Linked DNA regions of Homo sapiens. The protein of the gene in region 1 purifies or fractionates together with the protein of each later gene. This does not show direct contact. Each region holds a gene or a part of one and is shown in the gene's direction. Other genes may lie near its edges.

Evidence for each region.
Region 2: the proteins of GLOD4 (region 1) and SNX3 fractionate together in Homo sapiens (co-fractionation; one large-scale study listed by BioGRID). This does not show direct contact.
Region 3: the proteins of GLOD4 (region 1) and SERPINB5 fractionate together in Homo sapiens (co-fractionation; one large-scale study listed by BioGRID). This does not show direct contact.
Region 4: the proteins of GLOD4 (region 1) and TKT fractionate together in Homo sapiens (co-fractionation; one large-scale study listed by BioGRID). This does not show direct contact.
Region 5: the proteins of GLOD4 (region 1) and PPIL3 fractionate together in Homo sapiens (co-fractionation; one large-scale study listed by BioGRID). This does not show direct contact.
Region 6: the proteins of GLOD4 (region 1) and FKBP1B fractionate together in Homo sapiens (co-fractionation; one large-scale study listed by BioGRID). This does not show direct contact.
Region 7: the proteins of GLOD4 (region 1) and SDHA fractionate together in Homo sapiens (co-fractionation; one large-scale study listed by BioGRID). This does not show direct contact.

Annotation. Positions count from the first base shown.
Region 1 is NC_000017.11:768,251-772,740, reverse strand, and holds part of GLOD4 (glyoxalase domain-containing protein 4), read left to right. Parts: intron 1-1,279; coding exon 1,280-1,416; intron 1,417-2,233; coding exon 2,234-2,320; intron 2,321-2,583; coding exon 2,584-2,697; intron 2,698-2,785; coding exon 2,786-2,872; intron 2,873-4,490.
Region 2 is NC_000006.12:108,219,149-108,223,638, reverse strand, and holds part of SNX3 (sorting nexin-3), read left to right. Parts: intron 1-593; coding exon 594-689; intron 690-4,490. UniProt on the Homo sapiens protein: Phosphoinositide-binding protein required for multivesicular body formation. Specifically binds phosphatidylinositol 3-phosphate (PtdIns(P3)).
Region 3 is NC_000018.10:63,500,734-63,504,037, forward strand, and holds part of SERPINB5 (serpin B5), read left to right. Parts: intron 1-2,596; coding exon 2,597-2,989; 3' UTR 2,990-3,304. UniProt on the Homo sapiens protein: Tumor suppressor. It blocks the growth, invasion, and metastatic properties of mammary tumors.
Region 4 is NC_000003.12:53,224,396-53,228,885, reverse strand, and holds the end of TKT (transketolase), read left to right. Parts: intron 1-526; coding exon 527-610; intron 611-736; coding exon 737-830; intron 831-2,007; coding exon 2,008-2,130; intron 2,131-2,954; coding exon 2,955-3,130; 3' UTR 3,131-4,174; downstream 4,175-4,490. UniProt on the Homo sapiens protein: Catalyzes the transfer of a two-carbon ketol group from a ketose donor to an aldose acceptor, via a covalent intermediate with the cofactor thiamine pyrophosphate.
Region 5 is NC_000002.12:200,881,588-200,886,077, reverse strand, and holds part of PPIL3 (peptidyl-prolyl cis-trans isomerase-like 3), read left to right. Parts: intron 1-305; coding exon 306-380; intron 381-710; coding exon of another isoform or gene 711-816; intron 817-3,642; coding exon 3,643-3,736; intron 3,737-4,490. UniProt on the Homo sapiens protein: PPIases accelerate the folding of proteins. It catalyzes the cis-trans isomerization of proline imidic peptide bonds in oligopeptides. May be involved in pre-mRNA splicing.
Region 6 is NC_000002.12:24,055,731-24,060,220, forward strand, and holds part of FKBP1B (peptidyl-prolyl cis-trans isomerase FKBP1B), read left to right. Parts: intron 1-4,490. UniProt on the Homo sapiens protein: Has the potential to contribute to the immunosuppressive and toxic effects of FK506 and rapamycin. PPIases accelerate the folding of proteins. It catalyzes the cis-trans isomerization of proline imidic peptide bonds in oligopeptides.
Region 7 is NC_000005.10:251,908-256,319, forward strand, and holds part of SDHA (succinate dehydrogenase [ubiquinone] flavoprotein subunit, mitochondrial), read left to right. Parts: intron 1-2,485; coding exon 2,486-2,599; intron 2,600-4,412. UniProt on the Homo sapiens protein: Flavoprotein (FP) subunit of succinate dehydrogenase (SDH) that is involved in complex II of the mitochondrial electron transport chain and is responsible for transferring electrons from succinate to ubiquinone (coenzyme Q).

The DNA of each region.
Region 1 (4,490 bases):
TACAGGCGTGAGCCACCGCGCCCGGCCTGAATATTTTTTCGTATGTTATTTGACCATTCTAATTCCTTGTTTTGTGGATTATTGCTTTGTGCCTTTTGCCTATTTTTCTAGCATGTTCATTCTTTTCCTATTGATATTTACAGGTGATTTACATATTAAGGACTTTTTGTCCAATATATTGCAGTTGTTCCCCCTACTGTGTTGTATACTCTAGTTTTGATTGTAATTCCTTTTCTTGGTTGTTGTCTAGGAGTTTTCCATTTTGTGTAATTTATGTAGCAGAAGTTTTTTCTTCATAGTTTTTCTATCTTTGGTGTCAGGTTTAAAGAAAAATCTTCCTCTACTCCAAAATTGTATAAATAATCATCTGTATCTAGTATTTTCATGGTTTCATTCTCTAAACTTATTTTTTTAACCCATCAGGAATGTATTTTGTCATTTATTTCGAAGATGTAAGTTTTTCTTACCAAATGATTAGCCAGTCTTCTTAGCGCCGTCCATTGAATAATGAGGCTTTTCATACTGTCTTTGTTTTTTTTTTTTTTTTTTTTTTCGAGATAGGGTCTCACTGTCACCCAGGCTGGAGTGCAGTAGTGCAGTCTTGGCTCACTGCAGCCTCAACCTCCCGGGCTCAAGCGATCCTCCTGCTTCCATCTCTGAAGTGGCTGGGAATACACACATGAGCCACCACGCCTGTCTAATCTTTTTTTTTTTTTTTTTTTTTTTTGAGACAGAGTTTTGCTCTTGTCTCCCAGGCTAGAGTGCAACGGCGCCATCTCGGCTCACTGCAACCTCCGCCTCCCAGGTTCAAGCAATTCTCCTGTCTCAGCCTCCCGAGTAGCTGGGATTACAGGCGTGCGCCACCACGCCCAGCTAATTTTTTTTATTTTTTATTTTTAGTAGAGACAGGGTTTTGCCATGTTGGCCAGGCTGGTCTCAAACTCCTGACCTCAGGTAATCCACTTGCCTTGGCCTCCCAAAGTGCTGGGATTACAGGCATCAGCCACCACACCCAGCCAATTTTTTTAAAGTTTTCATACAGGCAAGGTCTCAGTGTTTTACCTGCATTGGTCTTGAATTCCTAGGCTCACGCAATCCTCCTACCTCAGTCTCCCAAAGTGCTGGCATTACAGGCATGGGCCGCTGCACCCAGCTTCATACTGGCTTAAAATCCCTTTCTTATCATAAACTGAATTTGTAAGTATACATGCGCATGTTTTGGTCTTTCTATTTTATTCTATTAAATTGATCTGTCTATTCCTGCTTTATTACCCAACAGATCCTGTATTAAAAGTAACTCTAGCAGTGTCTGATCTTCAAAAGTCCTTGAACTACTGGTGTAATCTACTGGGAATGAAAATTTATGAAAAAGATGAAGAAAAGCAAAGGGCTTTGCTGGGCTATGCTGATAACCAGGTGAGCAATCTTGGAGAAGAATAACCTGTTACTTTGAATTTGGCTTGTAAACGAAGCTTATAAATGGCTTATAACCTTTATAAATGAAGTTAACATGAAGGTTGTTCCCATAGTTTCTTCACAGTGATTCAATATTTATATAGATAAACAGAAGAAAATAAGTGATAACCTTACCACCCAGATATTACCTTGTTTATATTTGGGGATATATCTCTTCAGAAGTGGAATTGCTTAATCCAAGAGATTGAATGGATTTAATGCAAGATCTTTTTCATCTTCTTTTTCTAATAACCCAGCGTTTGAGCACGATTTAGTCCTTGCACTTTGACCCTGCAATTCTACTCCTAGGAATTATTTTACAGATGTGCTCAACATACATCGGCACAAAGAAGTGTGTGCAAGGTTATCTGCTGCAGCATTGTCTGTAATCACAATGTGTAAGAATTTCAGTGTCCTATAGATTAGAGACATATTTCAGTAATTTACGGCTCATTCATGGAATGGATTACTATGTCGCTAGCAAAAAGATTGAGGCAAATCTTTATGTATTGACATGGTAACATTAAGTGGAGAAAAACAAGGAACAGAATAATTTGTAAATTATACCACCATTTGTGTAAAAAAAAAAACATAGATGCGTGCAGTGCTTCTAGAAGGATACACAGGAAAGTGTGGACTAGTTGTCTCTGGGGTGAGAGTAGGATAGAGACTCAGTTTTTACTTTATTCCTTTAGTATATAATATTTGAATTTTTCTACCACATACGTGTAATGAATGTATAACCTGTTCCAAAAAATAACCCCCTTTCCTATTTCAGTGTAAGCTGGAGCTACAGGGCGTCAAGGGTGGGGTGGACCATGCAGCAGCTTTTGGAAGAATTGCCTTCTCTTGCCCCCAGAAAGAGGTAACGCTTGATACCAGATCGTTTGAGCTTTCTGACTAGCTAGTTCAACCCAGCTAAGAACTTTGTCCTTCCCTTCTTGAGGTCCTTTTTGATTGTGGCTTTAGTATCAAGTTCAGCAGTTGTTTCAAGAGCAGCTGAGATAATAAATTCAAACAAATGGCGCCTTGGTTCTTTATGGTATCTGATACTCCTCTAGGACTGACGAGGGCCGTGTCCTGAGTAGTGTGTGACCCCTGGCTCACGTTGCCTCTGTTTTCCTCAAGTTGCCAGACTTAGAAGACTTGATGAAAAGGGAGAACCAGAAGATTCTGACTCCCCTGGTGAGCCTGGACACCCCAGGGAAAGCAACAGTACAGGTGGTCATTCTGGCCGACCCTGTAAGTATTTCTCAGGCAGGGGGCAGGCTGGACCAGGGGTTTCTTCAAGGATGTCTTTGGCAGGTGTCTTTTCTCTTTATTGGTGTAGGACGGACATGAAATTTGCTTTGTCGGGGATGAAGCATTTCGAGAACTTTCTAAGATGGATCCAGAGGGAAGCAAATTGTTGGATGATGTGAGTCCCATTTCTACATTTATGTCACCATGGGCCTGAGAGGGATGGCATTAAGTGTGTGTGGGAGGAGACTAAGCAACAGGGTCCAGGTTCTTAATGTCAGAACCACGTCCTTTCGCTGTTGGGTTGACCTCAGCCAAGGACCGATGTCTTCACTGCCACCTGTGTAGACTGCTTGTCTAGACTTAGCATTTGTGCCTTACCACAACCTCAGGCTGCCCTGGAACCACTGCTGGTGGATCTGTGCTTATTCTGCTCTCCACATGGAGATGCCTCTATCCGACCCCCTCAGCTCTCCCCATGGAGATGCCTCCATCCGACCCCCTCAGCTCTCCCCATGGAGATGCCTCCATCCGACCCCCTCAGCTCTCTGCATGGAGATGCCTCCATCTGACCCCCTCAGCTCTCCCCATGGAGATGCCTCTATCCGTTCCCCTCAGCTCTCGCCAGGGAGATGCCTCCATCCGACCCCCTCAGCTCTCCCCATGGAGATGCCTCCATCCGTTCCCCTCAGCTCTCCGCATGGAGATGCCTCCATCCCATCCCCTCAGCTCTTGCCATGGAGATGCCTCCATCCGTTCCCCTCAGCTCTCCCCATGGAGATGCCTCCATCCCATCCCCTCAGCTCTCCCCGTGGAGATGCCTCCATCTGACCCCCTCAGCTCTCCCCATGGAGATGCCTCCATCCGTTCCCCTCAGCTCTCCCCAGGGAGATGCCTCCATCTGATCCCCTCAGCTCTGCAGCTCCTTTGATCATCTCTTCTCCATTCTGCAGCATCAGTCTCTTCTTTCCAGTGAGTTATTCTCGCCAGCGTGCAAACAGGCGCTGAAAGCTCCCATCCTTTAAAAACCTTTTACTGACCCCATATCTCCTCTCCAGATTTCTCCTTCTAAAAATCTGAGTGCGCACTGTTTCTCTCTCTCACATCCTCTCCAGATTTCTTCTTCTAAAAATCTGAGTGCGCGCTGTTTCTCTCTCTCACATCCTCTCCAGATTTCTTCTAAAAATCTGAGTGCGCGCTGTTTCTCTCTCTCACGTCCTCTCCAGATTTCTTCTTCTAAAAATCTGAGTGCGCGCTGTTTCTCTCTCTCACATCCTCTCCAGATTTCTTCTAAAAATCTGAGTGCGCGCTGTTTCTCTCTCTCACGTCCTCTCCAGATTTCTTCCTCTAAAAATCTGAGTGCGCGCTGTTTCTCCCTCTCACGTCCTCTCCAGATTTCTTCTTCTAAAAATCTGAGTGCGCGCTGTTTCTCTCTCTCACGTCCTCTCCAGACTTCTTCTTCTAAAAATCTGAGTGCGCGCTGTTTCTCTCTCTCACGTCCTCTCCAGATTTCTTCTAAAAATCTGAGTGCGCGCTGTTTCTCTCTCTCACGTCCTCTCCAGATTTCTTCTAAAAATCTGAGTGCGCGCTGTTTCTCCCTCTTATGTCCTCTCCAGATTTCTTCTAAAAATCTGAGCGCGCGCTGTTTCTCTCTCTTACGTCCTCTCCAGATTTCTTCTTCTAAAAATCTGAGTGCGCGCTGTTTCTCTCTCTCACGTCCTCTTCAGATTTCTTCTTCTAAAAATCTGAGTGCGCCCTGTTTCTCTCTCTCACATCCTCTCCAGATTTCTTCTAAA
Region 2 (4,490 bases), on another chromosome or scaffold:
GTAATCCCAGCTACTTGGGAGGCTGAGGCAGGAGAATCACTTGACCCTAGGAGGTGGAGGTTGCAGTGAGCCAAGATCACATCACTGCCTGGGCGACAGTGAGATTCTGTCTCAAAAAAAAAAAAAAAAAAAAAAAAAAAAGAACTAGCAAAGTTTTATTTTGTTATGGGTAAAAGGTCATATTAAAAACATCATGATTTCGGCCGGGTGCCGTGGCTCATGCCTGTAATCCCAGCACTTTGGGAGGCCGAGGCGGGCGGATCACCTGAGGTCAGGAGTTCAAGACCAGCCTGGGCAACATGGTAAAACCCCATCTCTACAAAAATACAAAAATTAGCTGGGCATGATGGTGGGTGCCTGTAATCCCAGCTACTTGGGAGGCTGAGGCGGAAAAATCATTTGAACCTGGGAGGTGGAGTTTGCAGTGAGCCGAGATCGTGCCATTGCACTCCAGCCTAGGCAACAAAGGGAGATTCTGTCTCAAAAAAAGAAAAAGAAAGTCATGATTTCTTTTGTTTTGCCATACCCGTCCCCCCATTTTTTTGAAGTTTCCTTAATGTGCTTCAATTTAGGACTAACTTTTTTTGTTTCAGACAAATCTTCCTATTTTCAAGCTGAAAGAATCTACTGTTAGAAGAAGATACAGTGACTTTGAATGGCTGCGAAGTGAATTAGAAAGAGAGAGCAAGGTAAGAATGATTTATGATGCAACTTTAAAGCAAAACATTCCAAGTTTTAATGTTTAATATTTCTCAGGAAAATGATATTGAATAAAATGGGTAAAAGCAAATATGATTTCTTTTTTTCAAATAGTTCAGTGTCATTTTATAGAGGTAGAGTCTGTGTAAATTTTCCTTAGAACTCTTTCTCTTGTCTGCTTTGGCCCAGTTGAGGTCTTTGCTGACTCACACTTCAATAACACTTCTTAGAACCTTGTTGCTATTACTTCCTTCCTTTCCCTCATCGTCCTATTCCATCTTCCCCTCTCCACACACTTAAGCCAAGTTTCTCTTCCTCAATACATTTTATAAATGTCAGTGTATTTCCAATTTTGTTTTAGTGACATATAAGTTTTTTTCATCACATATATGTTCATGTAACAGAAGTTTCATAAAGCAGTAATGACCTCACTCTGTGTGATATGTGCTGATATTCTTCAGATTAGCGTTTTTAAATGATGGCCATGATCCACTAATGGGTTGCTGCCGGCAATTTAAAAACACTGTTACATGCCTGATCTTCTCTTAGAATAGAATTTGGTAGCTTTGGCATCAAAATAAATTAAAGCAAGGTCTCACTCTGGTGTCTCTCATTTCAGCCCTGCCTCAGAATGACATCAGAGGCAAGGAGTCATGGAAGGACGTGGTGTGCTCAGAATGATGAAAAGTTATTTTGTGACTAGAAAGTAGGTAAAAAGGTGTGGGTATGGTAGGAGTCCTGAACTAGATGAAGGCTAGTCTGTACTCATTTCTCAAGTTTAATAAGGGTTTTCTTTTTTTTTCTGTTTCTAGCCTAAGATAAAAGTGGCTGCATATGAGCACAAAATATGCAGATCATAGCATTCCAACAAAAATGTAAAGAAGGCCGGGCATGGTGGCTCATGCCTATAATCTCGGTACTTTGGTAGGCCGAGTCAGGAGGATCTCTTGAGCCCAGCAGTTCAAGACCAGCCTGGGGAACATAGTGAGGCCCCATCTCTTCCAAAATTTTTAAATATGAATAAAACTAGAAATACAAAATCTGTGTTAAGAAAGCTCTCAAACTTTACCAAAAGACCAGACCTAAATAAAGAGGGGCCAGGTGCAGTGGCTTACGCCTGTAATCCCAGCACTTCAGGAGGCCAACGTGGGTGGATCACTTAAGCCAAGGAGTTCGAGACCAGCGTGGGCAACATGCGAAACCCCATCGCTACAAAAAATACAAAAATTAGCCAGGCATGGTGACATGCACCTGTAGTCCCAGCACTCAGGAGGCTGAGGCAAGAGGATCACTTTGAGTCCAGGAGGCAGAGGTTGCAGTGAGCTGTAGTCTTGCCCCTGCACTCCAGCATGGGCACCAGAGCCAGGCCCTGTCTCAAAAAAAAAAAAAAAAAAAAAAAAAAAAAAAGTGTAATACTGTATTCCTTGTAATACTGTATTCCTCGTTTGGAATGTTTACTGTTGAAGATTTTTTTATTTTATAAACATTTTAGCTCGTCCTTTGTGTTCTAGGAGTTACAGGTAGAGCTATGAACAAATTAAGGTCCCCTCTTTTATGGTGCTTATATCCTATTAGGTAAATTGCGGGGGAGGGGGTTGTTGAAGAGAAGGCAGGAAAAATATAGTAAAATATATAGATGTCAGATGATGAGAAGCTCTAAAAAAAAAAACAAAGCTAAACTAAGGGAAGTAGGAAGTGCCAGGGGAGCCACTCTCATATAGAGCACAAGGGAAGGCCTCACTCTAGGTGACATTAGCAGAGACCTGCATGAAGTAGAGCAGTATCTTCTAACTTATTTATAAATTCATAAGATTGTAGTAGAAATTTCAGTAGGGCTGTTTATAAAGTTGCAGATTTATTTATGAGCTTTAGAATCAGAAAAAGCTCAAGAATAACCAAAAAATATTTTCAGTATATAGTGGGCAGCAGGTTATTTGTTCTACCAGACATCAAAACATCTTTTTTTTTTTTGAGACTGAGCCTCACTCTGGAGTGCAGTGGCATCATGTCGGCTCACTGCAACCTCCATCTCCGGGGTTCAAGCAATTCTCCTGCCTCAGCCTCCCGAGTAGCTGGGATTACAGGCACCCACCACCACACTCGGCTAATTTTTTTTATATTTTTAGTAGAGATGGGGTTTCATCATGTTGGCCAGGCTGGTCTCGAACTCCTGACCTCAGGTGATCCGCCCTCCTCGGCCTCCCAAAGTGCTGGGATTACAGGTGTGAGCCACTGTGCCTGACCCAAAACATATCTTAAGGCTATAGTAATTCAAACAATGTGGTGTAGTCATATGGCACTTAATGATGAGAATACATTCTAAGAAATGCATCCTTAGGTGATTTCATTGTTTGTGCAAACATCATATGAGTATACTCACACAAACCCAGGTGGTGTAGCCTACTACACACCTAGGCTATATGGTACAGCCTATTACTCCTAGACTACAAGCCTATCCAACATGTTACTGTACTTAATACTACAGGCAGTTGTAACATAGTGGGAAGCATTTGTGCATCTAAACATATAAAAGATATGGTAAAAAATACAGCGTGGAAGACTTTTTTTTTTTTAAAGCATGGAAGATTTTTTAAATAGTACACCTGTATAGGGCACTTACCATAAATGGAGCTTGCAGGATTGAAAGTTGTTCTGGGTGAGTCAGTTAGTATGTGGCGAGTGAATGAGAAGACCTAGGACATTACTGTTTATTACTGCAGGCTTTATAAACACTGTACATTGAAATTTATAATTTATAAAATATTTTTCTTCAATAATAAATTAACCTTAGCTTACTTTTTAAACTTTTTACTTTAACTTTTTGACTCTTGTAATAACACTTAGCTTAAAACACAGACACATTGAACAAATGTACAAAAATATGTTCTTTATATTCTTATTCTATAAGCTTTTCTCTATTTAAATTTTTTTAACTTTTTCTTAAAAATTAAGTCACAAATATACATAGTAGCCTAGGCCTGCACAGAGTCAGGATCACCAAGACATCTCTAGGCAATAGGAATTTTTCACCTCCATTATAATCTTAAGGCACCACAGTTATTATCTTAAGTGGTCCATCTCTGATGGGAAACACTGTTATGCAGTGTATATTGCTTTAGGTTGGGCAAATAGATTAGTGGAATATAATAGAGTTTAGAGTTTGACCCATGTATTTATAGGGAATTTAGTTCATAACAAAAATAGCATTGTCATTCAGTGGGAAAGGAATTCAGCAAATGGAGTTGAAATATTTGTCTATTAGGAAATAAAGATTTATATCTCACTATATTACAAATTACAGATGGTTGGGAGATTGATTGATTGATTGATTGACAGAGCCTTGCTCTGTTGCCCAGGCTGAAATGCGGTGGCGTGATCATAGCATACTATAATATCCTCCAACTCCTGGTCTCAAGTGATTTTCCTGCCTCAGCCTCCCAAGTAGCTGGGACTACAGGCATGAGCCACCATGTCCAGCTAATTTTAAAAAATTTTTTGTAAGGATGAGGCTTCACTATGTTGCCCAGGCTGGTCTTGAATTCCTGGCCTCAAGTAATCCTCCTGCCTTGGCCTCCCAAAGTGCTGGGATTACAGGCATGAGCCACCACACCTAGCTGAGAAGTGTCTTGATACATAGGCTTTGGGCTTTGCTTGACATACCATGTGGCACACTGGAAATGTTTAATAAACGTTTGCTGAGTGTATATTTTGCTTTTTTTTGTAAATTTATTTATTCATTTTTTAAAAATTTTTAGTAGAGACGGGGTTTCACCGTGTTAGCAAGACGGTCT
Region 3 (3,304 bases), on another chromosome or scaffold:
CCTGGATCACTTGCTATATATCCACATGGGCCTCAGTGATTTGCTGACTTTCCAGGGGACCATCCAGTCTCCAGCTTGCTCCTTTGGTTGCCATTATGTTTTAGCCACCACTTTATTAACTGAATTATAATTCCTGTCCTTCTTCTTCTTTGGTGCATTACTCTCTCTGTTTTTTTTCTTTCCATTTTATGCTTTGATCTTTCAGCCATTATCCAGCTGTCTTGGATTTTACCTTTCGTTCTTAAAACGCCCTCCAATAAACATCAATTATTTTCTTCTTCTTCTTCTTTTTTTATTTCAATAATTTATTTTTCTTTTTTTTAATTATACATTAAGTTTTAGGGTACATGTGCACAATGTGCAGGTTTGTTACATGTATATACATGTGCCATGTTGGTGTGCTGCACCCATTAAGTTGTCATTTATATTAGGTATATCTCCCAATGCTATCCCTCCCCCCTCCCCCCACCCCACAACAGGCCCTGGTGTGTGGTGTTCCCCTTCCTGTTTCCAGGTGTTCTCATGGTTCAATTCCCACCTATGAGTGAGAACATGCAGTGTTTGGTTTGTTGTCCTTGTGATAGTTTGCTGATAATGATGGTTTCCAGCTTCATCCGTGTCCCTACAAAGGACACGAACTCATCATTTTTTATGGCTGCATAGTATTCCATGGTGTATATGGGCCACGTTTTCTTAATCCAGTCTATCATTATTGGACATTTGGGTTGGTTCCAAGTCTTTGCTATTGTGAATAGTGTTCCAATAAGCATACGTGTGCATGTGTCTTTATAGCAGCATGATTTATAATCCTTTGAGTATACACCCACTAATGGGATGGCTGGGTTAAATGGTATTTCTAGTTCTAGATCCTTGAGGAACTGCCACACTGACTTCCACAGTGGTTGAACTTGTTTACGGTCCCACCAACAGTGTAAAAGTGTTCCTATTTCTCCATATCCTTTCCAGCACCTCTTGTTTCCTGACTTTTTAATGATCGCCATTCTAACTGGTGTGAGATGGTATCTCATTGTGGTTTTGATTTGCATTTCTCTGATGGCCAGTGATGATGAGCATTTTTTCATGTGTCTGTTGGCTGCATAAATGTCTTCTTTTGAGAAGTGTCTGTTCACATCCTTTGCCCACTTGTTGATGGGGTTGTTTGATTTTTTCTTGTAAATTTGTTTGAGTTCTTTGTAGATTCTGGATATTAGCCCTTTGTCAGATGAGTAGATTGCAAAAATTTTCTCCCATTCTGTAGGTTGCCTGTTCACTCTGATGGTAGTTTCTTTTGCTGTGCAGAAGCTCTTTAGTTTAATTAGATCCCATTTGTCAATTTTGGCTTTCAATTATTTTCTTCTTAAAGTATAGAACTAAAGAAAATGACCTTTTGAGTTTTGGAAATGATTTTTTTTTTTTTTTTGAGATGGAGTCTTGCTCTGTCCCCCAGGCTGGAGTGCAGTGGCATGATCTCAGCTCACTGCAAGCTCCGCCTCCTGGGTTCATGCCATTCTCCTTCCTCAGCCTCCCGAGTAGCTGGGACTACAGGTGCCTGCCACGACGCTTGGCTAATTTTTTGTATTTTTAGTAGAGACGGGCTTTCACTGTGTTAGCCAGGATGGTCTCGATCTCCTGACCTCGTGATCCACCCACCTCGGCTTCCCAAAGTGCTGGGATTGCAGGCGTGAGCCACTGCGCCCAGCCGCATCTCTCTCATTTTTTAAAACAGCTAAAATGGATGCATTCACTACCTATGACCCTAGGGCATGGCTCAGAGTTAGTTCAAATTCCCATTAAAAAAAAAAAGTAACTTTAGCTTTAATTTAATTTTCTAAATCTGATGCCATTCCTAGTACATGAATATTCTGGATTTCCTCGTAGAGAAATTACAATAAGCATTCAAGAAATATGTGTAAAAAGCTTTCTAATTTTATATTCATTTCACTATTGTGTATGCAACATCATGATCCAGGCATTTGTTTCTATAAATCTACTCTCTAACTTAAGGTTGGGTGCGGTGGCTCACACCTTTAATCCCAGCACTTTGGGAGGCTGAGGCTGGCACATCACTTGAAGCCAGGAGTTTGAGACCAGCTTGGCCAACATGATGAAACCCTGTCTCTACTACAAATACAAAAGAAAATTTAGCTGGGCATGGTGGAGTGTGCCTGTAATCCCAGCTACTCGAGAGGCTGAGGCACGAGAATTGCTTGAACCCAGGAGGCAGAGGTTGCAATGAGCGACGATCACACTATTACACTCCAGCCCGGGTGACAGAACAAGATTGTCTAAAAAAAACCCAAACAAACAAACAAACAAACAAAAAACTACTCTCTAACTTAAAATGAAAAAACAGAACCCTGTCCTCATAAATTTCAGTGCACATGGAACACTGTTATAGGCTGGGGAGGAGGAGGACACAGCTGGGTGGCTGCTGGGTCTCCTGAGTCACATACCAAAAACTTCTGGGCCATCTTTGATGTTCCACCCAGACTGCTTTGAAGCTGGGCTTATCATAACACCTTATGTTTTCAATTGAGCCAGGTCTTTTACAGTTGGAAATAAATAAAAATAATTTCTTTTCATTTTTGTCCTTCAGATTGAAAAACAACTCAACTCAGAGTCACTGTCACAGTGGACTAATCCCAGCACCATGGCCAATGCCAAGGTCAAACTCTCCATTCCAAAATTTAAGGTGGAAAAGATGATTGATCCCAAGGCTTGTCTGGAAAATCTAGGGCTGAAACATATCTTCAGTGAAGACACATCTGATTTCTCTGGAATGTCAGAGACCAAGGGAGTGGCCCTATCAAATGTTATCCACAAAGTGTGCTTAGAAATAACTGAAGATGGTGGGGATTCCATAGAGGTGCCAGGAGCACGGATCCTGCAGCACAAGGATGAATTGAATGCTGACCATCCCTTTATTTACATCATCAGGCACAACAAAACTCGAAACATTATTTTCTTTGGCAAATTCTGTTCTCCTTAAGTGGCATAGCCCATGTTAAGTCCTCCCTGACTTTTCTGTGGATGCCGATTTCTGTAAACTCTGCATCCAGAGATTCATTTTCTAGATACAATAAATTGCTAATGTTGCTGGATCAGGAAGCCGCCAGTACTTGTCATATGTAGCCTTCACACAGATAGACCTTTTTTTTTTTTCCAATTCTATCTTTTGTTTCCTTTTTTCCCATAAGACAATGACATACGCTTTTAATGAAAAGGAATCACGTTAGAGGAAAAATATTTATTCATTATTTGTCAAATTGTCCGGGGTAGTTGGCAGAAATACAGTCTTCCACAA
Region 4 (4,490 bases), on another chromosome or scaffold:
TTCGTGTAGCTTGTGGAAGTTAGACAAGAAAAAACGAAATACACACCCCACTTACTGCCACGTGGCAGACATTGTCAACTGATTGCCAGTCTGTCTCTGCTGAGAATCCTGGCAGCCCTGGCCGGTCCAGCGGTTGACACCTCTCCACCCTCCTGAGTTGGGTTCTCCAAGACAGGCAAGGATGAGCTGAGCCCTGTGGTCCAGGCCCGGAGCTGCATGCCACAGACCCAGTGCGCGTGGTTCCTGCCCCTCTGCCTGGTGCAGTCTGTGGGAGTAGCCCACCTGCAGCCAGTCTACCTGGTGGAAAGTTGCCTTCGGTCTGAGGCTGCAAGGTGGTGGGCAGTTCTCAGAGTGTTCAAGTGGGGTGCGGGCGGCAGAGGGCAAGCAAGGCCCTTTTCCCTGCTGGAGTAGCCAGGATGCAGTAACTAACGCTCCCATGGGAAGGGATGGCCTCTCTAGAAAGACCTCGTCTCTGAGGTTGGGTGTGCCACATCCTGTATCCTCAGTTTATCTGTTTCGGTCTCAGGGTATCTGCTTCATCCGGACCAGCCGCCCAGAAAATGCCATCATCTATAACAACAATGAGGACTTCCAGGTCGGACAAGCCAAGGTCAGTGCCTCGCATGCCCCAGGAGCCCACAGAGCTGCCTGGACCCTCCCTGCTGTGACTCCCAGCAGTCAGGGCACACCCTGCCCCAGGGCCCTGAGCCTTACTCACCCTCTGTGTCACCCCCAGGTGGTCCTGAAGAGCAAGGATGACCAGGTGACCGTTATCGGGGCTGGGGTGACCCTGCACGAGGCCTTGGCCGCTGCCGAACTGCTGAAGAAAGGTGAGGAGAAGGGGCCTCCAAAGTCATCAACTGAGCGGCCACTGCATGCTAGGTCTTGGGGTTCTTTCTTTCGTTCTTTCTGTTCTTTCTTGAAGAGCTCACAGCTAGAGAGAAAGCATTTCATTTCATTAAATAATGATAGCAATTATAGCCATCCTTTGAGCACTTGTTCTGTCTGGCATGTTGCTAAGTCCTGGGGCTGCAGTGCCCACAGTCCCTACCCTATGACTCTAAAGTCGAGACCCCCCCAGCATGGTGGCCAGATCAGTGGCCTGGAGCCTGCCAGCTGGGCTGGAATCACTCAGCCAGGCACTAGTTAAGGAAGTAAGTTATTCACTGTCACCATGCCTGTTTTCCTATCTGTAAAATGGAGATACTAGCCCCTTGCCCTCAGAGCTCTCCTGAGGGTTACATGCATGTGACTTGGTATTCTATTATTATTACTGCGAGCTCACAGTGTTGGCTAGTGGTTTGTAGGGGAGACAGGCATTGGCCTCTCCTGCAATAGAATCACACAGCAGATGTCATGTTTTAGCACGAAAGAGGGGGCAGGTGTGGCATCTTCCAGAAAGTGGCTTCAGAGTGGGTAGGAATTGATTAGCAGAGAGGAGAGTGAAGGGAGGCCGGAGGAGGGTCAGGCAGGAGCAAGATGGGGCTGGAGGAGCCAGAGGAGTCCATCCCCAGGCAGGGGGAGACCCAGGGGGGTGAGCTTTAAGCAGGGCCTGGCAAGCGTGGGTTTGTCCTTCTGAGAAGGTGCCTCTGCTGCTGGGGCCGCACGTGGGCCTCTGATCACTCTGCGGGCTGCAGCTCCCCAACGTCACCACATCAAGCCTCACCTTCCATCAGGCCAGACACCTGGGGTGTTTTCTCTCGCATTCCCTTTGTCTTCAAGGTTGTGGGAGGATGAGGGAAGGCGCTCAGGGCCTGCACGCTCCGCTCTGGGTTCTTGGATACTGCGGGCAACACAGCTGGACCAGATGCCCCAGTGCAAGGGGTTGGCAAGCATGAGCTCAGCCATGGGAACGAGGTGGCAAGTGGTTCTCCCTGGGACAGGGACAGGCCCGCAGGCTGAGCTCTTAGCTACACGCAGCCCTCAGGATGTCCCACCAGGCCCCCACCAGGGCAGATAGTGGTGCCCAGCCCTCCCCTCAGCCACGCCGTGTGCTCTCCCTCACAGAAAAGATCAACATCCGCGTGCTGGACCCCTTCACCATCAAGCCCCTGGACAGAAAACTCATTCTCGACAGCGCTCGTGCCACCAAGGGCAGGATCCTCACCGTGGAGGACCATTATTATGAAGGTAAGGAGGCCTGGGGCAGGCAGGCTGGGCAAGGGACAGGGCCAGAGAGCCGAGCGTTGGACGTGCCTCTTCTATCTGAGCCCCAGGAGGGCAGCTGTGGCCCAGAACACCCAGAGCTGTCCCTCAGAGCAGCTGGGACGTGGTCTCTTAAAAGGCCTCAGGCTTGGCCTGGGGACCTAGCTAACTCACAGCTGCTGATGAGCTCTGTGGAGCTCCTGCTGCCCAGGAAGCTGGTGAGGATTCCAACCTCGCTGCTAAATGGTGGATGGTGGCGTCCCTGAGGTAGTGTAGGGTGGAAGCTATGGTGCAGCTTGGGAAGCAATGCAGAATTTCTGGTATTTGTGAGTCCTTCACACAGCAGGCTCCCTAAGTACACACCAGCCTCTCTAAGTAGGAGGCCCCAGTGGGAGAGATGGGCTTTGACTCTGGGGTCAAATGTAGATAATTGGACTATGGACAGTGGCTGGCTGGTCACCAACAATGGTGTTTGAAACAAACATTTAGAGGCCATATTTGGGCTTATAAAAATAGTTCTGGGCCGTGCATGGTGGCTCACACCTGCAATCCCAGCACTTTGGGAGGCTGAGGACAGCGGATTTCTTGAGCTCAGGAGTTGGGAGACCAGCCTGGGCAACATGGTGATACCTGTCTGTCTCTTTAAAATAAAAAAAATCAATGAGTTATGTGATGGGCTCATGGCTACAGGTGGAGAAAGGCAGTGCATATGCAGCCTCCTCCATCCTTGACTAAGGCTGACAGAGGGCTGGGCCCACCACTGCTCACCCTGAGGCCTCGTCTTCTGACTCCCCTCCTTTCATTTCTAGGTGGCATTGGTGAGGCTGTGTCCAGTGCAGTAGTGGGCGAGCCTGGCATCACTGTCACCCACCTGGCAGTTAACCGGGTACCAAGAAGTGGGAAGCCGGCTGAGCTGCTGAAGATGTTTGGTATCGACAGGGATGCCATTGCACAAGCTGTGAGGGGCCTCATCACCAAGGCCTAGGGCGGGTATGAAGTGTGGGGCGGGGGTCTATACATTCCTGAGATTCTGGGAAAGGTGCTCAAAGATGTACTGAGAGGAGGGGTAAATATATGTTTTGAGAAAAATGAATTGGCCCTGAAATGTTTTCTTTTTTGATGTGTTTGCAGCCAGTGCAGGTTCTGGGGAAGAAGCGTGGAGGGTGCGCTAGGGAGGCTGGTGTCCTTGGTCCTGGGCCAGGACCTGGGTGTCCCAAGTCCCCTTGGAATCACCTGCAACTGCCCTCAACCTCCAGAACTATCGCTGCCTCCCATTCATCACCAGGTGACATTTGACTGCAACCTGCCTTCTAGCTGAGAGGCTGAGACCTACATCCCTCATTGTGACCTCAGTCCACCTGGCCCTGAGCGGGCTGGGGAACTGCCTCAGTCTGGAAGCTGACCAGGCACTCTCAGGGCCGCCCCACCTCCCCCAAGTCCCCACAGCCTTGCAGTCAGGTCTCCTGGGATAGGGAGGTTCACTTGCTTGTTGTCCCTCGTCCTTGTCATATCCTTTTAACTAGGCATCTCAGAGAAGCAGAGACAGGGCAGCCTTCGTCCTGGGGGAAAAGGGACCCTCAGGATGGCATGAGAGGTCCTCAATCCCAAGTGTGGAACTGTCCCCCTCAACTTGTTAAAATGCAGATTTCTGGGTCTTGCCAATGGGGCCTGGGACTCCATGTGACAACTGGCCCAGGAGCTTCTGATGTCACACAGAATTCTGCAGTCCCAAGCTCCAGCCCCGACCTGCTCTGCTGTTCCTAGGTGACTGCCCTCACACTGCTGACCACAGTGGATTTCTCCCCCTGCTGCTCGGGCTCAGCTGGGGTCAGCCCTGCTTATAAGGTCAACTGTGCAAAACCTTATACTGGCCAAGAACAAACTAGTGCTGGGGGAGGAGGGCTGGGTGCCCCGGCCACTGGTGGAGTCCCCAGGAAATCCTCAGAGCTGTTGCGAGGATGAGACACATTTGTGGACACGTCCACCTGTCCTCCTGACCGTCTGGAGAGAATAAACCTGTCAAAGCCAAGGTCAGGCAATTGCCCCCCACTTAGCTACCCAGCCAGGTCTAGCAGTGCCAGAGGCTGTGCCTGTGTTTGCCTCAACACCAATTCCAGAGGGACCAGGCATGGGGTGATGTGGTTTGGTCCCAGGGGGGTGCCCTGGGCTGATGCCTGTTCACCAGTGTGTTGAGGGCAGACCTGGGATTGGAACCTGGGTCTCTGTGAGTCTAGAGATCCCACCTTCTGTACCCTACTGCCCCTAGGGCCCTCAAAAGAGGAATCATGCAGTAGGCTCCCAGGAGGGCCCTGGTCCCATAGGATGATGGGAACAGCCTGGGGCTC
Region 5 (4,490 bases), on another chromosome or scaffold:
TGATAAAAAATTCAAAGTTAAAATAATTCTTTCCATCAAAATATTTACTTCCAAATTTTTGTCATGGATACTACTTAACCCTAACATTTATATTCTGGAGTTTTTTCTCTACTGTTGGGATCAATTTTGAGAAAAAAGTACAACTTAACCTCTAAGAGCTGCTTTGTGGATGGGTCATCTCTGAAGCAGTATTTCTGTCTGTTTTTATTCAGATTATCATCTTGAATATCCACACAGGGAAATAAACAATGCATAAAGTCACCTAAATAAATTTCATTTGTTCTCACATTTTCTCTCCTTTTTAGTCTGTGACACTGCATACAGATGTAGGTGATATTAAAATTGAAGTCTTCTGTGAGAGGACACCCAAAACATGTGAGGTAAGTACTATTATTTACATATTCAACATCAGTTAATACAACAAGATAAGCACTTTGGAATTGAATAATCTAACCTAAATAACAACAACAAAACTTTCTGTAAAACCATTGTTAGGGAAAACTAGCCATCCTAACTTCTGGCCTGATTTCCACTTATTTGTCCAATGTCAAAGGTGGATCAAAGAGAACGTAGATAATTTTTCGGTAACGATAGAGTAGCCAGTATCTTTTTCTTTTGAACTAATTTTCTTCAGGAAACGTAATCATTAGGACATTATATTACTTTTTTCTTTCTTTTTTTTTATTTATTTATTATTATTTTTTTTTGAGATGGAGTCTCGCTGTGTCCCCCAGGCTGGAGTACAATGGCGCGATCTCGGCTCACTGCAACCTCCGCCTCCTGGGTTCAAGCAAGTCTTCTGCCTCAGCCTCCCGAGTAAGTGGGATTACAGGCGTGCGCCACCATGCCTGGCTAATTTTTGTATTTTTAGTAGAGACAGGGTTTCACCATGTTGGTCAGGCTGGTCTCAAACTTCTAACCTCAGGTGATCCATGCACCTCAGCCTCCCAAAGTGCTGGGATTACAAGCATGAGCCACTGCACCTGGCCTTTTTTTTTTTTTTTTTTTTCTCAAGACGGAGTCTTGCTCTGTCACCCAGGCTGGAGTGCAGTGGCATGATCTTGGCTCACTGCAACCTTCGCCTCTGGGGTTCAAACGATTCTCCTGCCTCAGCCTCCCAAGTACCTGGGATTACAGGCACCCACCACCATGCCCAGCTAATTTTTATATTTTTTTAGTAGAGACGGGGTTTCACCATGTTGACCAGGCTGGTCTCAAACTTCTGACCTCAGGTAACCCGCCTGCCTCAGCCTCCCAAAGTGTTGGGATTATAGGCATGAGCCTCCATGCCCGGCAGGATATTATATTAAAGAATTGTTGTATACTTTTTTTTTTTTTGAGACAGGGTCTTGCTCTGTCGCTCAGACTGGAGTGCAGTGGTGCAATCACGGCTCATTGCAGCCTCAACCTCCTGGGCTCAAGCAATCCTCCCACCTTGGCCTCCCAAGTAGATAGGACTACAGGCGTGTGCCACCATGCCAGGCTAATTTTTTTTAAATTTTTATGGAGACGAGATCTCACTATGTTGCCCAACTTGGTCTCGAACTCCTGGTCTCCAGCCATCGTCCCATCTCAGCTTCCTGAAGTATTGGAATTATAGGCGTGAGCCACCATGCCTGGCCTGTTCTATACATTATTTCGCCTGTTTATTTTTATTTATTTATTTATTTATTTTGAGACAGAGTTTTGCTCTTGTTGCCCAGGCTGGAGTGCAGTGGCCCAATCTTGGGTCACTGCAACCTCCGCCACCCAGGTCCAAGGGATTCTCCTGCCTCAGCCTCCCAAGTAGCTGGGACTATAGGCGCCAGCCACCATGCCCAGCTAATTTTGTATTTTTAGTAGAGATGGGGTTTCACCATGTTGATCAGGCTGGTCTCAAACTCCTGACCTCAGGTGATCCACCCGTCTTGGCTGCCCAAAGTGCTGCCCAAAGCCACTGCACCCGGCCTGTGTCACCTGTTTAAATGACAAGGATGGAAGGAAGAAGAGTCACCTGTATATATTCATTTATTCAGCAATTATTTATGGCTGGGCATGGTGGCTCACATCTATAATTCCAGCACTTTGGGAGGCTAAGGTGAGCTCAGAAGTTCTAGGCTTACCTAGGCAATATAGTGAGACCCCCATCTCTACAAAACAATACAAAAATTAGCCAGATGTTGTGGTGTGACCCTGTTGTCCCAGCTACAAGGGAGGCCAAGGTGGGAGAATTGCTTGAGCCTAGGAGGTCAAGACTGTAGTGAGCTCTGATCACACTGCTGCACTCCAGCCTAGGTGACAGAGCAAGACCCTGTCTCAAAACGAAACAAGAAACCCATTATTCGTGAAAGGCTATCTTGCCCCAGAGTCTGGAGATACAGTGATGAGCAACAGACATTCCTTACCCTCATGGAGCCAATATTTTAGTTGTAAAAATAAGCAGGGCAGGAAAATTAAGTAATTATATTTTTAAGAAATTATTTTCATTTATTTATTTTTTTTTTAAAGATAGAGATGAGGTCTTACTATGTTGCCCAGGCTGGTCTTGAACTCCTGGACTCAAGTGATCTTCCTGCCTCCCAAAGTGCTGAGATTACAGGTGTGAGCTGCTGTGCCTGGCCTAAAATTAAGTAATTCTAAAAGATGATAATGCCTTGAAAAAAATTAAGTGTTGAGATAGAGAATAATGGGAAAGGAAGAAGGTGAGGGCAGGTGTAGCCAATAAACTAATACTTAAATTAAATGCAAAGGTATGAGGGCATCTCCATGGAAAGAGGTATAGAAAGAATATTCCAGGTATTCAGATTCAGAAAAGGTTGTGAAATAAAATTTTAAAAAATTCCAAGACCAGGCACGGTGGCTCACACCTGTAATTCCAGCACTTCGGGTGGCTGAGGCAGGAGAATCATTTGAGCTCAGGAGTTCAAGACCAGCCTGGGCAACATAGGGAGACACTGTCTCTACAAAAAAAAAAAAAAAAAAAAAAGAACATTCCAGATATAGAAATCTCAGGTACAGAGTACCCCAGGTAAGAAAAGCTGCCCCTTTTGGATTAATTGTCAGAATGCTGATGGAGTTTAGGTAGTAAGCAACAAGAAAGCAGTTCTTAGTATATGTGATGAGGAGATGAGCCAGGTACTGCAGGGCTTGTTAGGCCCTGCTGAAGATTTTCTTTTTGTTTTTGGTTGTTTTTTTTTTTTTTTGAGACGGAGTCTCTGTCGCCCGGGCTGGAGTGCAGTGGTGCGATCTCGGCTCACTGCAACCTCCGCCTCCCAAGTTCACGCCATTCTCCTCCCTCAGCCTCCAGAGTAGTTGGAGGCGCCTGCCACCACACCCAGCTAATTTTTTGTATTTTTAGTAGAGATGGGGTTTCACCATAGCCAGGATGGTCTCGATCTTCTGACCTCGTGATCCACCCACCTCGGCCTCCCAAAGTGCTGGGATTACCGGCGTTAGCCACCATGCCCGGCGAAAGATTTTGTATTTTATTTCAAGAGGAGAAGGAAGCTATTGAAGTGTTGTAGGCAGGGAAATGACATCCAAAGTAATGACAACAGTCATAGTTTAAATATGCTGCTATCACGTTTTCAGTAAATATGATTGGTTTTTTGTCTTAACTGGGTTTCTGCTGCATCATTTCTCAATCATTTTTACTCCCTTCAGAATTTCTTGGCTCTTTGTGCCAGTAATTACTACAATGGCTGTATATTTCATAGGAATATCAAGGGTTTCATGGTTCAAACAGGAGATCCAACAGGTAAGTTATTCCATTAACCAAGATCTAAGGAACTGAATGTATAGTATGAAGAAGTGGGTAAAAGAAGAGGAATTAAATACGTGGAGTTTTTGTTTTGTTTTGTTTTGTTTAATAAGTTCTGTTCTACAAGTACAGAACATGCAGGTTTGTTACATAGGTATATGTGTGCCATGGTGGTTTGCTGCACCTATCAGCCTGTCCTCTAGGTTTTAAGCCCAGCATGCATTAGCTATTCGTCCTAATGCTCTCCCTCCCCTTGCCCCCACCCACAACTAGCCCTGCTGTGTGTTGTTCCCCTCCTTGTGTCCATGTGATCTCATTGTTCAACTCCCACTTATGAGTGAGAATATGCGGTGTTTGGTTTTCTGTTCCTGTGTTAGTTTGCTGAGAATGATGGCTTCCAGCCATCCATGTCCCTGCAAAGGACATGATCTCATCCTTTTTATGGCTGCATAGTATTACATGGTGCAATTTTAAAGCAGAAATTATTAGCACCTACCCCTAAAATGTGAACAATATTGTGCTCACTTTGGCAGCACATATACTAAAATTTGAACAATACAGAGAAGATTAGTGTGGCCCCTGCACAAGGATGAGACACAAATTTGTGAAGCTTTTCATACTTAAATATATATGAACAATATTTATAAGGAGGGTTATTCTTTTTTGTTTTTTGTAGGTCTGTTTTAATCTTCAGGTCTGTGAAGTTAAATTTGGGGAATTAGGAAAGGCCATATCAAATTTTATCTATATT
Region 6 (4,490 bases), on another chromosome or scaffold:
TTCATAGTTTTTGTTTATTACAAACAGTGTCACTTTGATCAGTCTTGCAGGCATCTCTTAGTGTACATGTGTACAGACATATGTGCATGTTTCTGTTGGGTATATACCTGGAAGTGGGGTACCTCCTGGGCTCAGCGTTAGCAGTACTGTCTGACAGCTTTCCAAAGTCGTTGTGCCAGTTTCCACTCTAGGCAGCTGTGTAGGAGACTGCCAGTTACCCTGTGTCCTCCCCAACACTTGTTATTGTCAGGTTTTGGTTTTGTTTTGTTTTTTCTTTTTTTGAGACAGAGTCTATGTTGCCCAGGCTGGAGAGAAATGGCATGATCTTGGCTCACTGCAACCTCTGCCTCCTGGGTTCAAGCGATTCTCCTGCCTTAGCCTCCCGAGTAGCTGGGATTACAGGCGCCCGCCACCATGCCTGGCTAATTTTTGTGTTTCTAGTAGAGACGGTGTTTCACCATATTGGCCAGGCTGATCTCAAACTCCTGACCTCAGGTGATCTGCCTGCCTCGGCCTCTCAAAGTGCTGGGATTACAGGAATGAGCCACCACACCAGGCTTTGTTTTGGTTTTGGCCTACTCTGGTGAGCGTTCAGTACCATTTCATTGTGGGTTTTTTTGTTTTTTTTTTTTGAGACAAGGTCTCACTCTGTTGCCAAGGCTGGAGTGCAGTGGTGCGATCTTGGCTCACTGCAACCCCGCCTCCTGGGTTCAAGCGATTCTTGTGCCTCAACCTCCCAAGTAGCTGGGATTACAGGTGCGCACCACCACACCCAGCTAATTTTTGTATTTTTTGTAGAGATGGGATTTCACCATGTTGGCCAGGCTGGTCACTGTGGTTTTGATTTGTGTTTCCCTGATGATGAATGAAGTTGAGCACCTTTTCATGTGCCTACTGGCCATTTGGATATCCTCTTTAGACTGCTCTAATTTTGTCCATTTTAGAAAATTAGGTTGTCTTTTTCTTTTTCTTTTTTTGAGACAGAGTTTCACTCTTGTTGCTCAGGCTGGAGTGCAATGGCGCAATCTTCACTCCCTGCAACCTACACTTCCCGGGTTCAAGTGATTCTCCTGCCTCAGCCTCCTGAGTAGCTGGGATTACAGGTGTGTGCCACCGTGCCCGGCTAATTTTGAGGTTTTTAGTAGAGACAGGGTTTCGCCATGTTGGCCAGGCTGGTCTCAAACTCCTGACCTCAGGTGATCCACCTGCCTCGGCCTCCCAGAGTACTGGGATTACAGGTGTAAGCCATGGTGCCCGGCCGGTTGTCTTTTTCTTGTTGATTTATAGGAGTTTTGTATATGTTTTGGATATGAGTCTTTTGTTGGTTATATCTATCCCAAACATCTTCTCCCACACTATGGCTTGCCTTTTTACTCTCTTAATAGTATATTTTGAACAGAAGTTCTTTTTTTATAGTTTATATTTTCTTCTTTTCTTTCTTTTTAAAATTTTTTTCTTTCTTTTTTATTTTTGAGATAGGATCTCACTCTGTTACCCAGGCTGGAGTTCAGTGGCTCTAGTCTTCAGGGATCATGGCTCACTGCAGCCTTGACCTCCTGGGTTCAAGGACTCCTCCCATGTCAGCCTCCCAAGTAGCTGGGAGTACAGGAACATGCTACCATGCCTGGCTAATTTTTTTTTGGTTTTTTTTTGTGTGTGTGTGATGGAGTTTTGCTATCGTTGCCCAGGCTGGAGTGCAATGGCACGATTTCAGCTCACCACAACCTCTGCCTCCCAGGTTCAAGCAATTCTCCTGCCTCAGTCTTCCGAGTAGCTGGGATTTCAGGCATGCGCCACCACGCCTGGACAATTTTGTATTTTTAGTAGAGACTGGGTTTCTCCATGTTGGTCAGGCTGGTCTCGAACTCCCTACCTCAGGTGATCTGCTCGCCTCGGCCTCCCAAAGTGCTGGGATTACAGGCGTGAGCCACCGGGCCCGGCCACCTGGCTAATTTTTAGTTTTTCTGTAGAGAGGAAGGTCTCCCTATGTTGCCCAGGATGGTCTCAAACTCCTGGGCTCAAGTGATCCTCCTACCTTGGCCTCCCAAAGTGCTAGTATTACAGGTGTGAGCCACTGTACCTGGCCTGAACAGAAGTTCCTAATTTTGATGAAGTCTGACTTATCAATCTTTCCCTTTATGGTTAGTGCTTTCTGTGTTCAGTTTAAGAAATCTTTGTCTGTCAGGCCAGGTGCGGTGGCTCCTGCCTATAATCCCAGCACTTTGGGAGGCCAAGGCAGGTGGATCACCTGAGGTCAGGAGTTCGAGACCAGCCTTGCCAACATGGTGAAACCCTGTCTCTACTAAAAATACAAAAATTAGCCAGGCATGGTGGTGCATGCCTGTAATCCCAGCTACTCGGGAGGCTGAGACAGGAGAATTACTTGAACAACCCAGGAGGCGGAGGTTGCAGTGAGCTGAGATTGAGCCGCTGCACTCCAGCCTGGGTGACAGAGATGAGACTCTGTCTCAGGAAAAAAAAAAAAAAAATTGTCTCTAGGTCATGAAGATATCCTTCTATTTGTTATCTTGTAGAAGCTTTATTATTCTATCTTTCATATTTAGGTTTATGATTCATCTGGAATTGATTTTTTTGTGTGTGGATTTGGTAGGGGTTAAAGTTCATTTTTTCCCCATATGAATATACTGTTGACTCAACAACCTTAATGCAAGAAAAAAAAACCTTTATTTGCTGCATTGCAGTGGTATCTTTGTCCAATCAAATCACCATGTAAGTGGGTCTGTTTCTAGACTGCATGGTTTTGGCTTAACTTGTAGCAATAGATAAATGAAGTTATTTATCCAAAGTAGATTAAGTCACATGAAACCTGAAGAAACTAAGGAATGAGAAAGGAAAGTCGGTATATAAATGGAGTGTGTGAATGTGTGCATGTGTGTTTGCATATCTGTGTGCATATTTGTACAAGTATGTATCTGTGTGAATGTATGTAGATCTGTGTATGTAAATATTTTCTTAGCATCTATTTGGCCACCAGGGCTTTTCTCCTGAGTGTGAGTGCATAAGTGCATGTGAGCATGCACAAGTATCTTTGTGTATTTGAATATCTTAGCAACCTTAGCAAATGCATGCGATTGTATTTGATCTTGTTAGCATCCATCTGCATGTACCTCTGTGTAGCCAGAAGGGTTTTCTTCTTTGCCTCAGTTAGTACCCAGGGCAAAAGCTTAATGTATTCTACTCAGAAAGTAGTTAAATAAGACTGTTTCTCTAATATATATTTTAGTTGTAGGAATTAGGAAGTAGCATCATAGATGCTCCTACACTAAGCTGGCCCTGCTTCCTATGTTAAATATGACACATCTGAGGCCCTGGGAGAGGAAGTGATTTGCCCAGTCTCACACAATGAGTTAGAGCCAGAGTGAAGTCAAAACCCAGTCTCTGGATGTACAAGCAAGGTCTTTTTCTAGTCCCAAATGGCCTTTTGTGGTGGTCCAGGGACTGCCGGGAGCAGTCGTGGAACTGCATCATTTACAGAAGGTCTGATCTTTGAGTCAGAGTCACAGAAGAATTGAGAATAGCTGTTGGGCCTTGGGCTGCTGGACTGAGATGACATGTGGACATCAGGATGACAAGGCTTCTGAAGCAGAGGCTGGGGGAACCAGAACTGCTGGACCAGCACCTGGGGGGGGGTTCTGGTTTCAAACAGCCCTCTTAGTACAGAGTCTGGAGGCCACCTCTGACCAGCTAGGTCACCTTACACTGTTCCCTACAGTAGGGGATAATGTAACCTTTGGGTTTTCCCTTTTGGGGGAAACTTAGGAAACCTTAGGAACCTTATGCGAGGACTCAACCTGAGGCTGGAATAGCTGGGAAAACAGAACTTTAGGTGGAGGAAGTGGCATAAAAAAGTTGAAAAGTCTGGCTGGGCATGATAGCTCACACCTGTAATCCCAGCACTTTGGGAGGCTGAGGTGGGCAGATCACCTGAGGTCAGGAGTTCGAGACCAGCCTGGCCAACATAGCAAAACCCCATCTCTACTAAAAATATAAAAAAATTAGCAGGCATAGTGGCAGGTACCTGTAGTCCCAGCTACTCAGGAAGCTGAGGCAGGAGAATCCCTTGAACCCGGGAGGCGGAGGTTGCAGTGAACCGAGATCACACCACTGCACTCCAGCCTGGGCAACAGAGGGAGACTCCGACTCAAAAAAAAAAAAAAAAAAAAAAAAGTTGAAAAGTGCAGAGGAATTTGAGAAAGGTATGACCTGAAAAGGACACAGAGGGAAGGGAAGGAAGGGGAGAACAGAGAGGGTTATAAGCAGGCCAGAGCCGGATTGTGAAGTGCCTGTATGCAAGGTAGGCATTTGGATTCTGCTCTGGGGAGCTATTGAAGTATTTTGAGCAGGGGAGTAATAGAATCAGATTTGTGTTTAAAGAAAAAAAAAAATCAGTCTGGATGCCAAGTGGACAATGAAATGGAGGCGAGTAAAAGAGGATCAAAAAGACCAGTTAGGAGGTTGTTCCTGTGTAC
Region 7 (4,412 bases), on another chromosome or scaffold:
TAAGCCACCGTTTCAAACCTGCCCTGTGGAGGAAATGCCAGTTTATTAAATAACGAGTAAGCCACCGTTTCAAGCCTGCCCTGTGGAGGAAATGCCAGTTTATTAAATAACGAGTAAGCCACCGTTTCAGACCTGCCCTGTGGTGGAAATGCCAGTTTATTAAATAACGAGTAAGCCACTGTTTCAAACCTGCCCTGTGGAGGAAATGCCAGTTTATTAACGAGTAAGTCACTGTTTCAAACCTGTCCTGTGGAGGAAATGCCAGTTTATTAACGAATAAGCCACCGTTTCAAACCTGCCCTGTGAAGGAAATGCCAGTTTATTAAATAAGGAGTAAGCCACCGTTTCAAGCCTGCCCTGTGGAGGAAATGCCCGTTTATTAAATAACGAGTAAGCCACCGTTTCAAGCCTGCCCTGTGGAGGAAATGCCCGTTTATTAAATAAGGAGTAAGCCACCATTTCAAGCCTGCCCTGTGGAGGAAATGCCAGTTTATTAAATAACGAGTAAGCCACCGTTTCAAGCCTGCCCTGTGGAGGAAATGCCAGTTTATTAAATAACGAGTAAGCCACCATTTCAAACCTGCCCTGTGGAGGAAATGCCAGTTTATTAACGAGTAAGTCACCGTTTCAAACCTGCCCTGTGGAGGAAATGCCAGTTTAGTAACGAGTAAGTCACCGTTTTAAGCCTGTCCTGTGGAGGAAATGCCAGTTTATTAACGAGTAAGCCACCGTTTCAAACCTGCCCTGTGGAGGAAGTGCCAGTTTATTAAATAATGAGTAAGTCACCGTTTCAAGCCTGCCCTGTGGAGGAAATGCCAGTTTATTAAATAACGAGTAAGTCACCGTTTCATACCTGCCCTGTGGAGGAAATGCCAGTTTATTAACGAGTAAGCCACCGTTTCAGACCTGCCCTGTGGAGGAAAATGCCAGTTTATTAACAAGTAAGTCACTGTTTCAGACCTGCCCTGTGGATGAAATGCCAGTTTATTAATGAGTAAGTCACCATTTCAGACCTGCGCTGTGGAGGAAATGCCAGTTTATTAAATAAGGAGTAAGCCACCATTTCAGACCTGTCCTGTGGTTTGGAAAAGGTATTATAGAGCCTGCCCTGTGGTCACTTGTTCTTCAGATGAACTGATTTTTGTGCAGAGCGCACGTGTTGGATTCTGCCTGGTAAGAGTTTTTCCCATATGATAGCAAAAAACGACGGAAAGGGAAGCTTGGGATGCAAATGCAAGTTCAGGATAAACCACATCAGCAAAAGGACAAAGGCTCCACAAGGCAGGCGCACAGGCTGGTTCAGGACCGTGTGTAGGCGGCTGGTGGCAGCCTTTCCAGTCAGCTGAACATGGTGAATGGGAAAATCATTTTTATTCACCATGAAATTTTACTGATTTACCCTCCACTAGAATATGCTGATGGCTGTGATCACTGCTCAGAACTTGCTCTTGTCTCCTTGTATGTATTAAGAGTTTCCTGCAAAGTATATGAATCCGTGTTTGCCAGAATACAGAATAATAGTAAATTTATTATTTTTATTTTTATTTTTTTGAGAAGGAATCTCACTGTCCCCCAGGCTGGAGTGCAGTGGCGTGATCTCAGCTCACTGCAACCTCTGCCTCCCGGGTTCAAGTGATTCTCCTGCCTCAGCCTCCCAAGCAGCTGGGATTACAGACACACTGCCACCATGCCTAATTTTGTATTTTCAGTAGAGATGGGGTTTCACCATATTGGCCGGGCTGGTCTCGAACTCCTGACCTCAAGTGAACCACCCACCTCGGCCTCCCAAAGTGCTAGGGTTACAGGCATGAGCCACTGTGCCTGGCCAGTGCATAAATTTAGTTGGTCACAGTCAGTTTTAATTAGAATAGAAGCCAGGTGCAGTGCCTCACACCTGTAATCCCAGCATTTGGGAGGCTGAGGCAGGCCAATGACTTGAGCCCCAGAGTTGTAGACCAGCCTGGGCAACATGGCGAAACGTGTCTCTACAAAAACATAAAAAATGAGCCAGGTGTGGTGGTAGCACAGGAGGCTGAGGCAGGAGGATTGATTGAGCCTGGGAAGTCAAGGCTCCGGCAAGCTGTGATCACACCACTGCACTCCAGCCCAGGTGACATAGCCAGACCCTGTCTCAAAAAAAAAATTTTTTTTTAATAAAAACAGGCTGAAAGAAAAGATTGAGGTAGTCTCCCAGCACATGGAGCAAAAAGACAAAGTATTTGATAAACTCTTAGGTACATAAAGGATGCTTAAGGGAACATGCGGACATGGATTACTGTGGACTCACTGCTGGCTGCACACCCCCTGGCCAGCCATGCGGCCTCCGTGGGTTCTGAACATGTTGATGGTGCCAACCTCCTGGGCTGAAGTGGAAATGGAATGAGTTCTAGGGCATCTGTCTCTTAGATCATGTTAATGTCTGCTGTGTTTTTTCTGTATTGCTCTGTTAGAGTAATAAGAAACGTGATGGTGTTTCTGGCCTCAGGTGCGGATTGATGAGTACGATTACTCCAAGCCCATCCAGGGGCAACAGAAGAAGCCCTTTGAGGAGCACTGGAGGAAGCACACCCTGTCCTATGTGGACGTTGGCACTGGGAAGGTCAGTGTGGAGCTCGTTCTCACCACAGCCCAGCACCCACACGGCCCCGCCCAGGCCTGCGGGCTGGCCTTGCTGATGGTGAACGGGGAAGAGCAGGCCAGATTTAAATCAACTCCCGACAGATTCGAGGCACCGCTGAAAAAGGCACTCCGACAGCAGTCGGGCTTCGGGCTGGAAACAGAATCCAGTTCCTGCAGGTGGTTCAGAGGAGCCTTAAGGAAGGGTTGCTCCGTGGTGTGCGCCAGATGGACGTCACTGGGCAGGAGCAAGTGTCCAAGGCCTGGTGGTAGGGGAGGAGATGATGATTGTGGACCTAGCGAGAAAGCATCTGTGGGGTGGGGACACACAGCCATTACCAGAAACCAGTCCCACGTTAAGGGAGCCCAGAAGAGACACCTCCCCTCTCCTCCCACGGGCTGGGCCAACTGGAAGCGTCTGCAGGGGAGCTGAGGGGATGTGGTGCAGCCTTTAGCATCCCCTGGGCACTGAGCAAGCAGAGAAGGGCAGAAATGGAGGTGGGGTTGGGGTGAGCAGTGTCCTGGGAACAGCCAGCCGAGGGTGTGGTAGGGGGTCGCAGCCTTTTTCCACACACGGTGAGCAGCGTCCTGGGAACAGCCAGCCGAGGGTGTGGTAGGGGGGTCGCAGCCTTGTTCCACACAAGCACAGTTCACCTGTGTGGCATTTCCGCTGGGCATTAAGATTCAGAAATAATGAAGATAGAAAGCTTTTACCCTTAAACTTTTCATAGCTTGTAAGAGTCGTATAATCACTTAGCTGTGTCTGTGGAAGTTACCTTTGGACTCTCACTATCATCTAGTGTGTCTGTGATTCAGGCAGTAGGTCATTTTCAGGACTTCTCATGAAGGCCATTTCTTGATAGTGTATAGAAATCACACTTCACTCGCTTAGCACAAGTCTATTTTTAATGTTTCCGGGTTCGGGTTTTTTGGTTTTTTTTTGTTTTTCTGAGATAGAGTCTCATCTCTGTTGCCCAGGCTGATATGTGTTGGCTTGATCTCGTCTCACTGCAGCCTCAACCTCCCCCAGGCTCAGGTGATCCTCCCACCTCAGCTTCCTGGGCACATGGCACCATGCCTGGCTAATTTTTATATGTTTTGTAGAGATGGGGTTTCTCCACGTTGCCCAGGCTAGTCTTGAACTCCTGCGCTCAAGTGATCCACCTGTCTTGGCCTCCCAACAGGCATGAACCAACACCCCCAGCCAGTTTTAGTGATTTTTCAAGAAATACATACTCATTTTAGAAAGTACAAAGAGATTGAAATAAGAGCTCACTAACCAGAGACGACCCATTATGGTTTAAATTTCTTTGTATATGTGCCTACCTTTTCCTGTGTGTGCATATTTAATACACAGCTTGAGTATTCCTTCTCTGAAATCCTTGGGACCAGAAGCGTTGTGGATTTCAGGCTTGTTCAGACTTTGGAATATTTGCATTATACTTACTGTCTGAGCATCCCTAATCGGAAGATCTGACTCCATAGCACATTTCTTTTGAATGTCATGCTGGTGCTCAGAAAGTTTCAGATTTTAGAGAATTTCAGATTTTTGGATTAGGGATGTTCAACCTATATAAATATTTACTTTGAAGTAGAAAAACTGGAAGTAGATGGTTTAAACATAAAGTGTCTTGGTATAGACAAGGGTTCTCCCACTTTACATGATGGGAGCATTTTTGTAAAGCACTGAGAATCTTAAAGTTCACATGCCATAAATCTACTTTTATAGTTAAAATTTTTCAAAAGGAACACAAGAGATGGCTTTTTGTACATTTTTGTGCTTAACTTACCACTGA